Linked DNA regions of Homo sapiens: regions 2 and 3 are each linked to region 1. Evidence: fine-mapped expression QTL. A gene starts in region 1. Each other region holds a variant in brackets. All regions are shown on one strand. Distances are between the middles of the regions.

Region 1 (4,360 bases):
CCCAATCTCAGTGGAAAAGTTGCACTTTTTCACTGTTAAGTGTGATATTGGGCTCTACAGGATTTTTTTAAAAAATAGAGATAGAGTCTCACCATGTTGCCCAGGCTGGTCTCGAACTCCTACACTCAAGCAATCCTCCTGCCTTGGCCTTCCAAAGTGCTGCAATTACAGGCATAAGCCACCACACCCGGTCTCTAGGAGATTTTTTGTAGATATTGCTTATCAAGTTAAGGACGTTCTCCTATATTGAGAGATTTTAAGAAGCAGAGTGAATTAAGCAGATTCACATTTTAGAAATCATTCTGGCTACAGGCTCACGCCTATAATCCCAGCACTTTGGGAGTCTGAGGTGGGAGGACTACTTGAGGCCAGGAGTTTGAGACCAGCCTGGGCAACGTAAACAGACTCTGTCTCTACAAAAATTTTTTTAAAAATTAACCAGGCGTAGTGGTGCATGCCTGTAGCCCTAGCTACTTGGGAGGCTGAGACAGGAGGATCATTTAAGACCAGGAGTTCGAGGTTACAGTGTTATGTTCGTACCAATGTAGGCGGCCTGGGTGACAGAGCAAAACCCTGTCTCTAAAAAAAAAAAAAAAAGAAAGAAAAGAAAAAGAAAAAGCAAGTGTTGGGGTGAAGAAATTAGAACCTCATATACATTGCTGGCAGAAATGTAAGATGCTGCAACTGTTATGAAAACAGTTTGGCAGTTTCTCGAAAAGTTAACCATAGAATTACCATGTGACCCAGTAATTCCACTCTTAGGTGTATACCAAGAAAATTGAAAATAGGGATTCAAACAGATACTTGTACATCAGTGTTCACTACAGCATTATTCACAATAACTAAAAGATGGAAACAACCCAAATGTCTATTAATGGATGAATGAGTAAACGAATTGTGGTATATATATACATAGAATGGAATACTATTCAATCATAAACAGATATGAAGCTCTGATACATCCTACAACATGGATGCACCTTGAATACATTATGTTACTTGAGAGAAGACACAAAAGGACAAATATTGTATGATTCCACTTTTATGACATGAAGTATCTATAATAGGCAAATTCCTAGAGACAGAAATAAGATTAGAGGTTTCTTAGGATTGAGGGGAGAGGAAAATGGGAAGTTGTTGCTTAATGGGTACAGAATTTTTATTTGGGGGTACTAAAAAGCTTTTGGAAAAATATACTGGCGTATTCCACAACATTGTATCATGGAATTGTCACTTGAAAATGGCTAAAAATAGCAAATTTTAACACACATATTACAACAATAAAAAATAAAAAAGTAAAGGTTTGTCAGGCATTTAATAATTAATACCTTTCATTGTTTTTGTCTGGAAAGAGTGTGTGCAAAGATACTTAACAACCAAATGTAATGTGTGATCCTTGATCGGCTCTTGCATTTTTTTTTTTTTTTTTTGAGACGGAGTCTCACTCTGTCGCCCAAGCTGCTGGAATGCAGTGGCGCGATTGGCTCTTGCTTTCTAAATAAAATGCCTATAAGATATTCTTAGGACAAGTGGGGGAAATTAAATCGGGAAGAGAATTATTATGAAATTAATGATCTTAGGTATAATAATTGTACTGCGGTTATGTAGCAGAACATCTATTCTTAGGAGATACATGCTGCAATGTTAAAGGGTTAAGTGTTACAATGTCTGCAATGTTAAAGGGTTAAGTGTTACAATGTCTGTAACTTACTTGCAAATGGTGACCCCAAAAAGGTGTGTGTGTGTGTGTGTGTGTGTGTGTGTGTGTGTGTGTGTGTGTGTGTGTGTGTGTGTGTCTGTGTACGCGCTTTGGAAGGCTACAATTGCGAGAAGCGCAGGTCTCCGCCACCGAAGCTTTAGACTCATAAGCCGGGTCAGGCCAAATTCCGCTGTGCGTAGGGGAACAAACGGCACAAACGGGGCACAAAAGGGGAACAAACGGCATACGCAACCGTCCCCGCGGGAGCCCCGGCCCAGCTCAGCGCACCCGCCAGCATGCCCCACCCTGATTGGTCCACTTGCTCAGCTCGCCGGCACCCCTATATCCAATTGGCGTAGCGCTTGCTGAGCGGCGGCGGCAACCGACGTACACAAGGGGCTTGAGCGTTCTGTGGAGAGAGTGCGAGGTCAGGCCATGAACTTGGGGTAAGCAGGGGTAAGCTGGGGTAAGCTGGGGTAAGCAAGGTGGTCGTCAGCGGAGAGGGAGGCATGTGTGTCTGGGTTGTCCCTTGGAGTCTTTACTGGAGAACGTTCCCAACCTGCGCCGCCGAGAGGGGCAGAGCCCAGTTCTCGGGTAGAAGATCGAGGCAGATGGGTCGGCCCTTAGCGACTCCACAGACCTTACGTTTTCACTTAATGACTAGCATTAAAACTGCCAGTGATCCCCTTTCGGTCCCTTATTTACCTCAGGATGAGGAGGGAAGAGAGGTGAGGAGGAAAGGAGAGAAATGACGAGACAGTTAGAGGAAGCGTGGCGGCTCCTGGGGAGGACTCCTGGCCCATGCCCCGGGTTCTTCGCCACCTTGTTTTTGGAGTCTTGCAGAATGTTGAAACGCCCAAATTCGTTTTAGGCCCACGAGGCGGGGAACCAGGCTTCTCAAGAAATCGATGTAGTACCAGTGCCTAACACCTAGTAGGCGCTCCTTAAGTAGGGGTGAATAAATAAAAAGGGCTGGTGCATGGTCTTCATCACTCGCAAGTTTGATATTTTGAGAAGATGAGAAGCCACCAAACTCAGACCTAACTACACATCGTTCAGCAAATGTTATTATGTTTTAGAATCTGGGGATATGGAAATAAATAAGATAGTGTGTCCCTTAAGGAGATTACAGTGCAGTGCGTCATTGAAGGTACTTTACCATTGAAGCTCTTTTCTTTCTTGGTGACGTTTCACCAACATAAACACGAACTGTTCATAACCCTACAATAAGGAAAGCCGTAAAACCTATTCTTTCCAGTGTTTTACCTTTAATAGTTAAGGTGAGGTAATTTGATTTCCCCTACCTGAGCAACACCGCAAATTTCGCATTCCTAATCAGACCTTTCCCAGCCTCTCTCTCCCTTGACTGGCTTGCTGGATTTAATTTTCTCTCTCTGAATTATGGACTGTATGTATGGGCTGCCATTTTTGTTCTCAGTGGAGTTTTAGGACCTTAACAGACGTTCAAGTTTTGTTGGCAGTGGCTACTGTTACTTTATGCCTTTGCTTCTGATATGCACGTATAAAGCACCATACTAAATATCACTATGTATTATTTGAAATATTGAAAGTGGTACTCTTTGCTCAAGCAGTTACTAACCTTGATGGCATTGTTAGTAGTCATATCGATGCTCCAGCACTCCATAGAATGTTTTAGTCATGAGTTCATTATGAAACTAATGAATGGCGGTTAAATATATCTTGTTCCTTTAACTTATGTGAGGAGTTTTGGTAACAGCATTATTAAAAAATGGTGGTATGATAACTTAATTTATAGTTTACCAATAACAAAATGAGATTTCAGGTTAATGATAACAATGCTTGTAGTATTGAAGAGTTTCAAGAATTTTCCCCCTGTAGTTGTGGGTTTTATCTTGGATTGCAAACGTTTTTAATTAAAACACTGGTTCGATGTGTACAAGATTCCTGCATAAATTCAAAATAATGGATTTATTGTCAGGTTCAAATGAACATTTCTGGTTATTTAAAATGTTGCGGTTTGTTAAAAATGAGAGACAACTTTCTTTTTTTATTACAGAGATGGTTTAAAGCTTGAAACTGAATTACTGGATGGAAAAACCAAGCTAATATTGTCTCCATATGGTATGTTGTGTTACAGAAATCTGAAATGTTAACTTTTAAATTCATACATAAAATTTATATTAGTTCAACAGACTTTTTGCTTGTAATAGAGTGATATTTAAATGATATTTTAGAAAAAGCTGTTTCCTCAAACTTCTGCAGATTTCCTTCTAGCCAAATAAAATCAGATTACAACACTGCTTACTACTGTCAGTATTCAGACTCATAACATTTAATGTTCCAGTATATTGCGTGTTCATTATATCCATATAGCAAATATCCTCATTGCCTGATGAATAATACAAGTAAAATTTATGTAATTATGTTCTTTGCATGTAAAGAATGTATCATTTGAGAAAAGTTTATAGTAAGACCACCGTAAAATGCTAAAGTCACTTTTAGTATTCGTTTTTAAACTCAGTGTACTTTGGTACCTTCTCCTTCGCATTTTTTTTTCTGTTTATAGTTTTACCTTGGAAAGATAAAAAACAAAAATAAAATAGAAGTAAATCCTTGAACTGGATTAGAAAAAAATACTCAGTCAAGATCTAAAGTTTATGCTTTCGAGGATAATGTTGC
Region 2 (4,000 bases), 79 kb after region 1:
CCTTAGAGTTGTAGCTAGTGTTAACAACTCTGCTATTTTGAAGCGCTCAAGCAAGCACCAATTTGGCATCAATACAAATTAAGTCATTTGCTTGTTTCTGCCTCCCTACCATTCTGTAGATCTAAGTTTAATACACATTTTAAATCAAGACAGTCAATTACATCAGCTTGCTCAATCCCTGTATTTATTATTTGCCAAGTAATATCTACTATGGTAATGGCCCCTTAGTAAGAATTCTGAGTGTAAGGCAATTGTAAGAATACCAAACAGAAATGCTGTGGGAATAACTGCCAAGTTAAAAGTTGCATCTAGGATCTAGGATAATTAATTTTATCTGCTTTCAGACTTGTTCTCACTTACGAGGTTGCTAAGTAGATTTCCTGTAATGTCAGGGACTTCATTTTATCAGGAAATAAAAGGAACAATAATAAGACAAGAGAAGAACATATTTCACAGCTGCACATTTTTGACAGTCCTTTCATAAATATTTTCCTTTTGTTTGGAAATAATTCTAAAAGAAAAGATAGCTATACCTCATTTGAGATACAGATGTTAGCTGATACTAAGGTTAGCTGATACTAATGAGATTAAAACCTTTCACTCTTGACAAACAGCTCAATCCAAAAGATCATACTTTCCCCAAAAAAATCCTAAATTCAAACACAGTATGTTTTTGAAACTACATTTGAAAAAGGGAACTCTAATTCCATTTTTAAGCAACAAGGGGAAAAATATATTTAACTTCAATTTTAGTGTTATATTTTAGGAAAGGACAAAAACTCATGATCTTTGCTTAGAAGACGTATACACAATTTTACCCGCTAAAAAATTACTGTTTTTCTTTAAGCCTTGGCCAACATTCCCTAACAAATTGCTGCTGTAGTATAGGAAATGGTGCCTCTAAATCAGAAAGTCCAGGTACAGGTAGTTTTCAAACTTACAGTGAAGATTTTGCTCACACTCATCACACTTTTCTAAAGGTTTAAATAGCCTCACTAGGAGTCGAGCTTATGACATTCTCTACCAATCCTGGTGGTTATCATGAACCAGTACACTCATTAACTATTGCAAAGGCAATTTGTCAGCACAGTGAAAAGACCCAAGGCGGGTCTGTAGGCGGAGGTGAGAGGGGAACAAAATATCCAACGTGCCAGGATAAGAATTAGAACTGTATGAAATTGATAAACCAGAAAATCCAAGTTTCATAAGATAATTAGGAGTACTAAATATCCTGAGTATCTTAAATCTCCAACATTAAAATGTGCTTTAGTACACATAAAGTGTCTGGAAGGATACACGAGAAATTGGTAACCATGGCTAATATATGGGGAAGAATCTAAGTGTTCCGGGCTGGGGCAGTATTACTTTCTTAAGTATTTTTGGACTTCTTGAATTACGTATCATGTCAAATATCTGATATATTCAAAGAAAAAAAATTGAATTGCATCTCATAAAACATATGGGTTGCGAAGAACTACCTTAATTTAAAAAATTCTGAATTATTTATTAGACATGGGGCCTCACTATGTTTCCCAGACTGGCCCTGAATTTCTGGCCTCAATTCCTCCTGCCTCAGTCTTCCAAGTAGATGGGATTACAGGTACATACCACCACACCCAGCTATTTATTACTTTAAATGCAACAGTGGCTCCCAAAATGTATAGCTAAACAACAACCAGTAAGTTTACTCCTCAAGGGTTATAAATAAAGGGAATATTTTTAACCTGAAATATAAATTAAATCCACATGGAGAATTTTCCATAATTAAAAACCTCTAAACCAAATAGATCCCTTTATAAAATATAAATAATCACAACCTAATTTTATTTTGCACAAATTTCCCTGTATGATTTTATTAAGAACTTAACTGCTCAGGCACAGTGGCTCATGCCTGTAATCCCAGCACTTTGGGAGGCCAAGGCAGGCAGATCACCTGAGGTCAGGAGTTCGAGACCAGCCTGGCCAACATGGTGAAACCTCGTCTCTACTAAAAAAAAAAATACAAAAATTAGCCAGGCGTGGTGGCGAGCACCTGTAATCTCAGCTACTCAGGAAGCAGAGGCTGCAGTGAGCCAAGATTGCACCACTGCACTCCAGCCTGCCTGGGCAACAGAGCAAGATTCTGTTGCAAAAAAAAATAGAAAAAAAAAACAAAACTTAATTATTTTGAAAATATCTTCATCTATAAGTGATTGAAAACACACATACATGTCAATCCATAATAAAGCTTTTGTTGTTG[G/T]TGGTGGTGGTGGTGTTGTTGTTGTTGTTGTTGAGACAGAGACTCGCTCTGCCACCAGGCTGGAGTGCAGTGGTGAGATCTCGGCTCACTGCAACCTCCACCTCCCAGGTTCAAACAATTCTCCTGCCTCAGCCTCCCGAGTAGCTGCGACTACAGGCTCAAGCCACCATGCTCAGCTAATTTTTTTATTTTTAGTAGACAGGGTTTTACCATGTTGGCCAGGATGGTCTCGATGTCTTGACCTCCTGATCCGCACACCTTGGCCTCCCAAAGTGCTGGGATTACAAACATGAGACACCGTGCTTTTTTAAAAAAAAACTTATTGCCATTAAATAATTGCAGTATTTTAACTTTTAAGTGAAAGGGGAGTAGTCAGTTCTCTAAAGGCACCATCATTCAGATGTCTACACTTTAGCTTACAAAATATAAAGATGGTATTTCCAAATAAGAGGAATGCAGGTGCTGATGGAACATTCTGAAGCATAAGAAAGATAACTACTAGCCGGGCACAGTGGCTCACACCTGTAATCCCAACACTTTGGGAGGCCAAGGTGGGCAGATCACGAGGTCAAGAGATTGAGACCATCCTGGCCAACATGGTAAAACCCCGAAATCAGAAAAGAATTACTGATAGATGCAAAACATGGACTCCCTGACACGATATTGCATGAAAGTACCAAACACGAGAGACGACATGAGTAGGCTCTATTTATCCTAAGTTCAACAACAGGCAAAACTAATCAGATTAGCACTTACTTGGGAACAAGGAGAGTACTAACTAGGAGAATGTGGAAGAAAATCTTCTGGGATGCTAGAAACGTTCTACATCTTGATTTGGGTGATGGTCATGTACATATGTAAAATTTCAAAAAGCTGTACAATAAAGATCTGTGGCCAGGTTCAGTGGCTCACTTGAGGTCAGGAGTTCGAGACTAGCCTGGCCGACAAGGTGAAACCCTGTCTCTACTAAAACTACAAAAATCAGCCGGGTGCGGTGGCACATGCCTGTAATCCCAGCTACTTGGGAGGCTGAGGCAGGAGAATCGCTTAACCCAGGAGGCAGAGGTTGCAGTGAACCAAGATCATGCCATTGCACTCCAGCCTGGGTGACAGAGAGAGATTCTGTATCAGAGGGGAAAAAAAAAAAGATTTGTGAACTTTCCTCTATGTTATATATCTGTTGTTCATGGTTTCTTTTTTTTTTTAACCACATTTTCCTAGAAGGAGATGGTGAAGATTTTCTTCAAGGAAACTAGTAACTTTAATTAGCGGGGGAGGGGAACTCCCAAAGGAAATAAATAACTACAAAGATGTAGTCATTTCACATTTCTTACAAATAAAAAAACAACACTTTAATTTCTGAAAAGAGTCAGATACAACAAAACTGAAGGAAAATATAAAAAAGATCACCACCAAACTGTAAACAAGAAAACAATGCCTATGACCATCTGCAGAGAAGTTGAATCCACCAAGATCAGACAAAGATTATCTCCTAGGTACCCACTGCCAACTAGCTAATCAATAATATCTGCAACTGTTTCTGAAATCCAAGTTTCTTAATCTTATTTAATCTACCTGCAGAAATTAGTTTTACAATCAGAAGAACTAGGTTAAAAGACTATGAATAGTATACCTAAAATATAAATGGCTTACCCTTCTTGGCTATTTTTTAAAAATTTAAAAAAGAAGAAACCCAGGTTTGGGGGCTCAAGCCTGTAATCCCAGCACTTTGGGAGGCTGAAGCAGGTGGATCACCTGAGG
Region 3 (4,360 bases), 37 kb after region 1:
GGTAAAAACAAGGGAAGAAAGTAACATTGTGAGGTATATCGTCATTGTAGGATTCTGTCAAACAGTTTTTCTTAATTATGTCTTGTAGTTATTTCATGTAATGAAATGTTTTGTTGTTTGCCTGTTGCATTTCAGAAGAATTTGAGTAGAATATATTTTTTTCCTTTTTTAAAAGAGTATCCTAAACTCATCAATTAAAGTGGCAGCAAACTTTTATGCTACTGTTTTCATTTTTTACTTTTTCCTTAAGATTCAAAGACTCGTTCTGGACACAGTATATTTTTGTTATTGAAACATCATAGGCTGTGATAGAGCTGTAGTAGCAGAAACCTAGAAGACAGAGGTTCTCCTAGAGAGAGACATGATTCAATAGGGAAAGTCTCTTGCTCTCACACATCTTTCTATATTCTCCTTGTTCTTGGTCCAAAGACAATATTCCAAATGTTGTATTCCAAAGCCAAATGTAAAACAATATTCATCTGTTTTAAATTAATAACTCTTTCAGCCTCTAAAAGAGACTTAGAATTTTGAAAAACAATATTTTTGAGACAGGGTCTCACTCTGTTGCCCATGCTGGAGTGCAGTGGCATGATTTCAGCTCACTACAACCTCCACCTCCCGGGTTCAAGTGATTTGTGTCTCAGCCTCTCAAGTAGCTGGGATTACAGACATGCACCACCACAGCTGGCTAATTTTTTTTTTTTTTTTCAGTAGAGATGAGATTTTGCCATGTTGGCCAGGGGCTGGCCTTGAACTCCTGGGCTCAAGTGATCTGCCCATGTCAGCCTCCCAACATGCTGGGATTATAGTCATGAGCTGCTGCATCCAGCTGAATTTTGAAAGTCTTTTAATTGTTTTGGAGAAAGAATTTTCTGTTTTTCATTAGAAAATTCCCTTCCCTTACACTTAGATATCTTATTATATATCTCTGATCTAGTATATTTAAAATATGATTCTGAGAATCAGAATATATCTACTTAATTCTTTGAATTCAAATTCGTTTGAAGTTATTGCTCCTCTTACAGATAAATGCCTCAGTGGATTAAATCTGTATGTTACTTTGGCAAGATTTGCACATATTAAGTGATTAGAAAAAGAGAACTGAACTTTAGATGGCTTTTATGGCTGTTGTTTAGGAAACAGTACTGCTGGAGCACCCTTTCAGTGCTGTGAAACAAGAACTGCAAAGAAAATGGATTGAAGAGTTGAATAAGCAAATAGAAGATGACCGTCAAAGAAAAATAGAGGAAAAAATTATATATTCAAAGGTAACTTATGAGGTTTTGTGGCTATAAAAGAAAAAATAAAATCAAAGTCTTTAATCAATTAAAACTAGAAGTATTCTGAAACTCTTGACAAGACCAGAATATTCCATTTATTCCACATTTGCCCATGTGAACCTGTTTCATTGAATGCATTATGTGATGTTGCATAGCTTCTTACAACTTTTTAGAAATTTCCTAATTCTTTGAATTTCTCAAATTTTCAAAGCTAGTGATCTATATGTATAAGGACTCTAAACAGTACAGTCTTGTTAATTTTTATGATGCTTATTCTGCTCTAAGGTGACTTTTAGAAATCATCTTTGGTTGTCATTTAGAATTATATATGAGAATAATTGGAAAAATTCTTAGCAATTCTTATTTGTCATCATTAGGGTGAGGAACATGACAGATGGGCAATGCACTTTGATTCATTAAAGAGTTATCCTGGTTCTCAATCTCAGCTGTTCTCTCAGTCAACACACAAACAACCTGAGTACTTCTGTGTCTCTCCTGACACTCAGGAGCTGGCTGATGTCAGCAGTGTTTGTACACCTACAACCGGAAGCCAGGTTGAACCTTCAGAGGAGGAGCATATAGCAAAACCTATTAAGGATGTGGTTATGGCAAACAGTAAGAAAACAAAGTAAGTTCATGCTTATGTATTTATTGACTTTTCAGAAAGTCTGTGTGCTTTAGTAAGACTGTTGTTATGTCTAATTGGTTTCAGGTTTGGTATTTGTCTTTGAAATAGAAATAATTAGTAGATTTATCCCAAACAAAAATGATTTAGCTTGTTGAATCTACCTTTTTGAGGTTTTGAATAGCTAATGTATGTATCTTGCCAGCTTTCTCCGTTCTATGACTGCTCTCTTGGACCCAGCTCAGATTGAGGAACGAGACAGACGACGACAAAAACAATTAGAGCATC[A/G]GGTATTGCATTGTTAAACATTGTTCTTTACCTTAATAAGTAACAGTCATGGTGAACATATACCTAAGTAAATGGAAATTTAAATTCTGATGTAAACTTTACAGCATAGGTCCTGTCCAGTTGTGTCACGAATCCAATCCCTACCACAACTGGCATTGTAATATTAGAATTAGCTTATCAAATGCTACAGCCACCTGCCTTCCAGTACAGAAGGTCTTTAATATATTAAGTTGTATATGTGAATTTGTGTTGTCTTAGGTTAGTACTGGTTTTTTTTTTTTTCATCAATTTATTTCTCCTGAGTTCTGTTTAAGATGAGAATTCATTCTTTGAATAGGGATTGAACTAGAATTATGACTAAGAAATCTAATGCATAATGGCCGGGCACGGTGGCTCACGCCTGTAATCCCAGCACTTTGGGAGGCTGAGTGGGCAGATCACGAGGTCAGGAGATCAAGACCATCCTGTGAATGGTGAAACCCCGTCTCTACTAAAAATACAAAAAATTAGCTGGGCGTGGTGGCAGGCGCCTGTAGTCCCCAGCTACTCGGGAGGCTGAGGTGGGAGAATGGCATGAACCTGGGAGGCAGAGCTTGCAGTGAGCTGAGATTGTGCTACTGCACTCCAGCCTGGGCGACAGAGTGAGACTCCATCTCAAAAAAAAAAAAGAAATCTAATGCATAATATAAGAAAGGAGGCTAAAATTAAAATTAAAACTTCCTGTCCTGATTTTAGCCTAATGCTAAAGGGACTTTAATATCTGCATAATTCTTCAAATCCTTTGATATATGAATTTGGCATCATTAATGTTATGCTTAGTCAGTGAGCAGACATTTGCAGAGCATCTGCTACTTAACAGGCACTATGCTAAGCACTGAGATTATTTCTTCAGTTTTTTTTAATACCATTTCCTCCAGTAGCCCTCCTAGGGTTGAAGAAAAGGCATGTAGAACTTGACAGTACAAATGGGAGATGGGAGAAATGCATTGGAAATTTGACATTTCCACTTCACTTATATAAATAATACTTTCAGTATGCTGATAAAAACTTATTTCTACAGTCACCAAACTAATGCTTCATGGATTTTAAAAATTGATATATAATGTTTTATATATTTATAGGATACATATGATATTTTGTTATATATGTAGAATGCGTAATGATTCAGCCAGAGTATTCTGGTATCTATCACCTTGAGTATTTATCATTTCTGTGTTGGGAACATTTCAAGTTTACTAGCCAATTTGAAATATATAATACATTGTTGCTGACCATAGTCACCTTACTATTGCTATCAAACATTAGAACTTATTCCTTTCATCTAACCATATGTTTGTACCCATTAACCTACCTCTCTTGATCACTACCACCCTCACACACACCCTTCCCAGCCTTTGATACCTATCATTCCATTCTTTAGCTCGTTGAGACCTACTTTTTTAGCTCCCACATATGAGTGGGAACATGTGATGTTTATCTTTATATACCTGGCTTATTTCACTTAACATAATGACGTCCAGTCCCATCTGTGTTGCTGTAAATGACAAGATTCTATTCTTTCTTTATGGCCAAATAGTATCCCATTGTGTATATACCACATTTTGTTTATCTATTTGTTCATCAATGGACACTCAGATTGTAAATAGTGCTACAGTTAGCACAAGAGTGCAGGTTTCCTTTTGATATACAGATTTCATGTTCTTTCGATAAATATCCAGTACTGGGAATGCTGGATCATATGGTAGTTCCATTTTTAGTTTTTTGAGACGTCTCCATACTGTTTTCCATAGTGACTGTATTTATTTACATTCCCACTAACAATGTATAAGGATTCCCTTTTCTCCGCTTCCTTGGCAGTATCTGTTAGTTTTTGTCTTTTGGTATGTTTGTTTGTTTGCTTGTTTTTGAGACAGGGTCTTGCTCTGCTGCGCAGTCTGGTATGCAGTGGCATAATCATGGCTCACTGTAGCCTCATACCCCTGGGCTCAAGCAATCCTGCTGCCCGAGCCTCCCCAGTAGCTGATATTACAAGCATGCGCCACCATGTCAGGCTAATGTTAATTTTTTTCTTTTATAGAGACACAGTCTCACTATGTTGACCAGACTGGTTTCGAGCTCCTTGCCTCAAACAGTCCTCCAACCTCAGCCTCCCAGAGTGCTGGGATTA

Evidence for each region. PIP is the estimated chance that this variant, and not a neighbour inherited with it, causes the effect. A credible set is the group of variants that fine-mapping cannot tell apart.
Region 2: its variant is the best candidate, but not a certain one, in a credible set for the expression of CCDC66 in whole blood (INTERVAL, PIP 0.76).
Region 3: its variant is the best candidate, but not a certain one, in a credible set for the expression of CCDC66 in blood mononuclear cells (TOPMed, PIP 0.62).

Annotation. Positions count from the first base shown.
Region 1 is chr3:56,555,109-56,559,468 of GRCh38, forward strand. CCDC66 (coiled-coil domain containing 66) reads left to right here and starts at 2,067. Exons shown (of 18, transcript NM_001141947.3): 1 at 2,067-2,145; 2 at 3,738-3,802. The coding sequence starts at 2,135. RefSeq lists enhancers at 1,510-2,182, 2,183-2,854, 2,323-2,482.
Region 2 is chr3:56,634,153-56,638,152 of GRCh38, forward strand. The region is part of intron 17 of TASOR (transcription activation suppressor); the gene reads right to left. Among named protein-coding and RNA genes, the nearest start is that of TASOR, 47 kb to the right of the region's middle. The variant G/T (reference allele first, on the strand shown) is at 2,240.
Region 3 is chr3:56,591,834-56,596,193 of GRCh38, forward strand. It overlaps CCDC66 (coiled-coil domain containing 66), which reads left to right. Exons shown (of 18, transcript NM_001141947.3): 8 at 1,137-1,268; 9 at 1,658-1,908; 10 at 2,111-2,195. Among named protein-coding and RNA genes, the nearest start is that of CCDC66, 37 kb to the left of the region's middle. The variant A/G (reference allele first, on the strand shown) is at 2,194.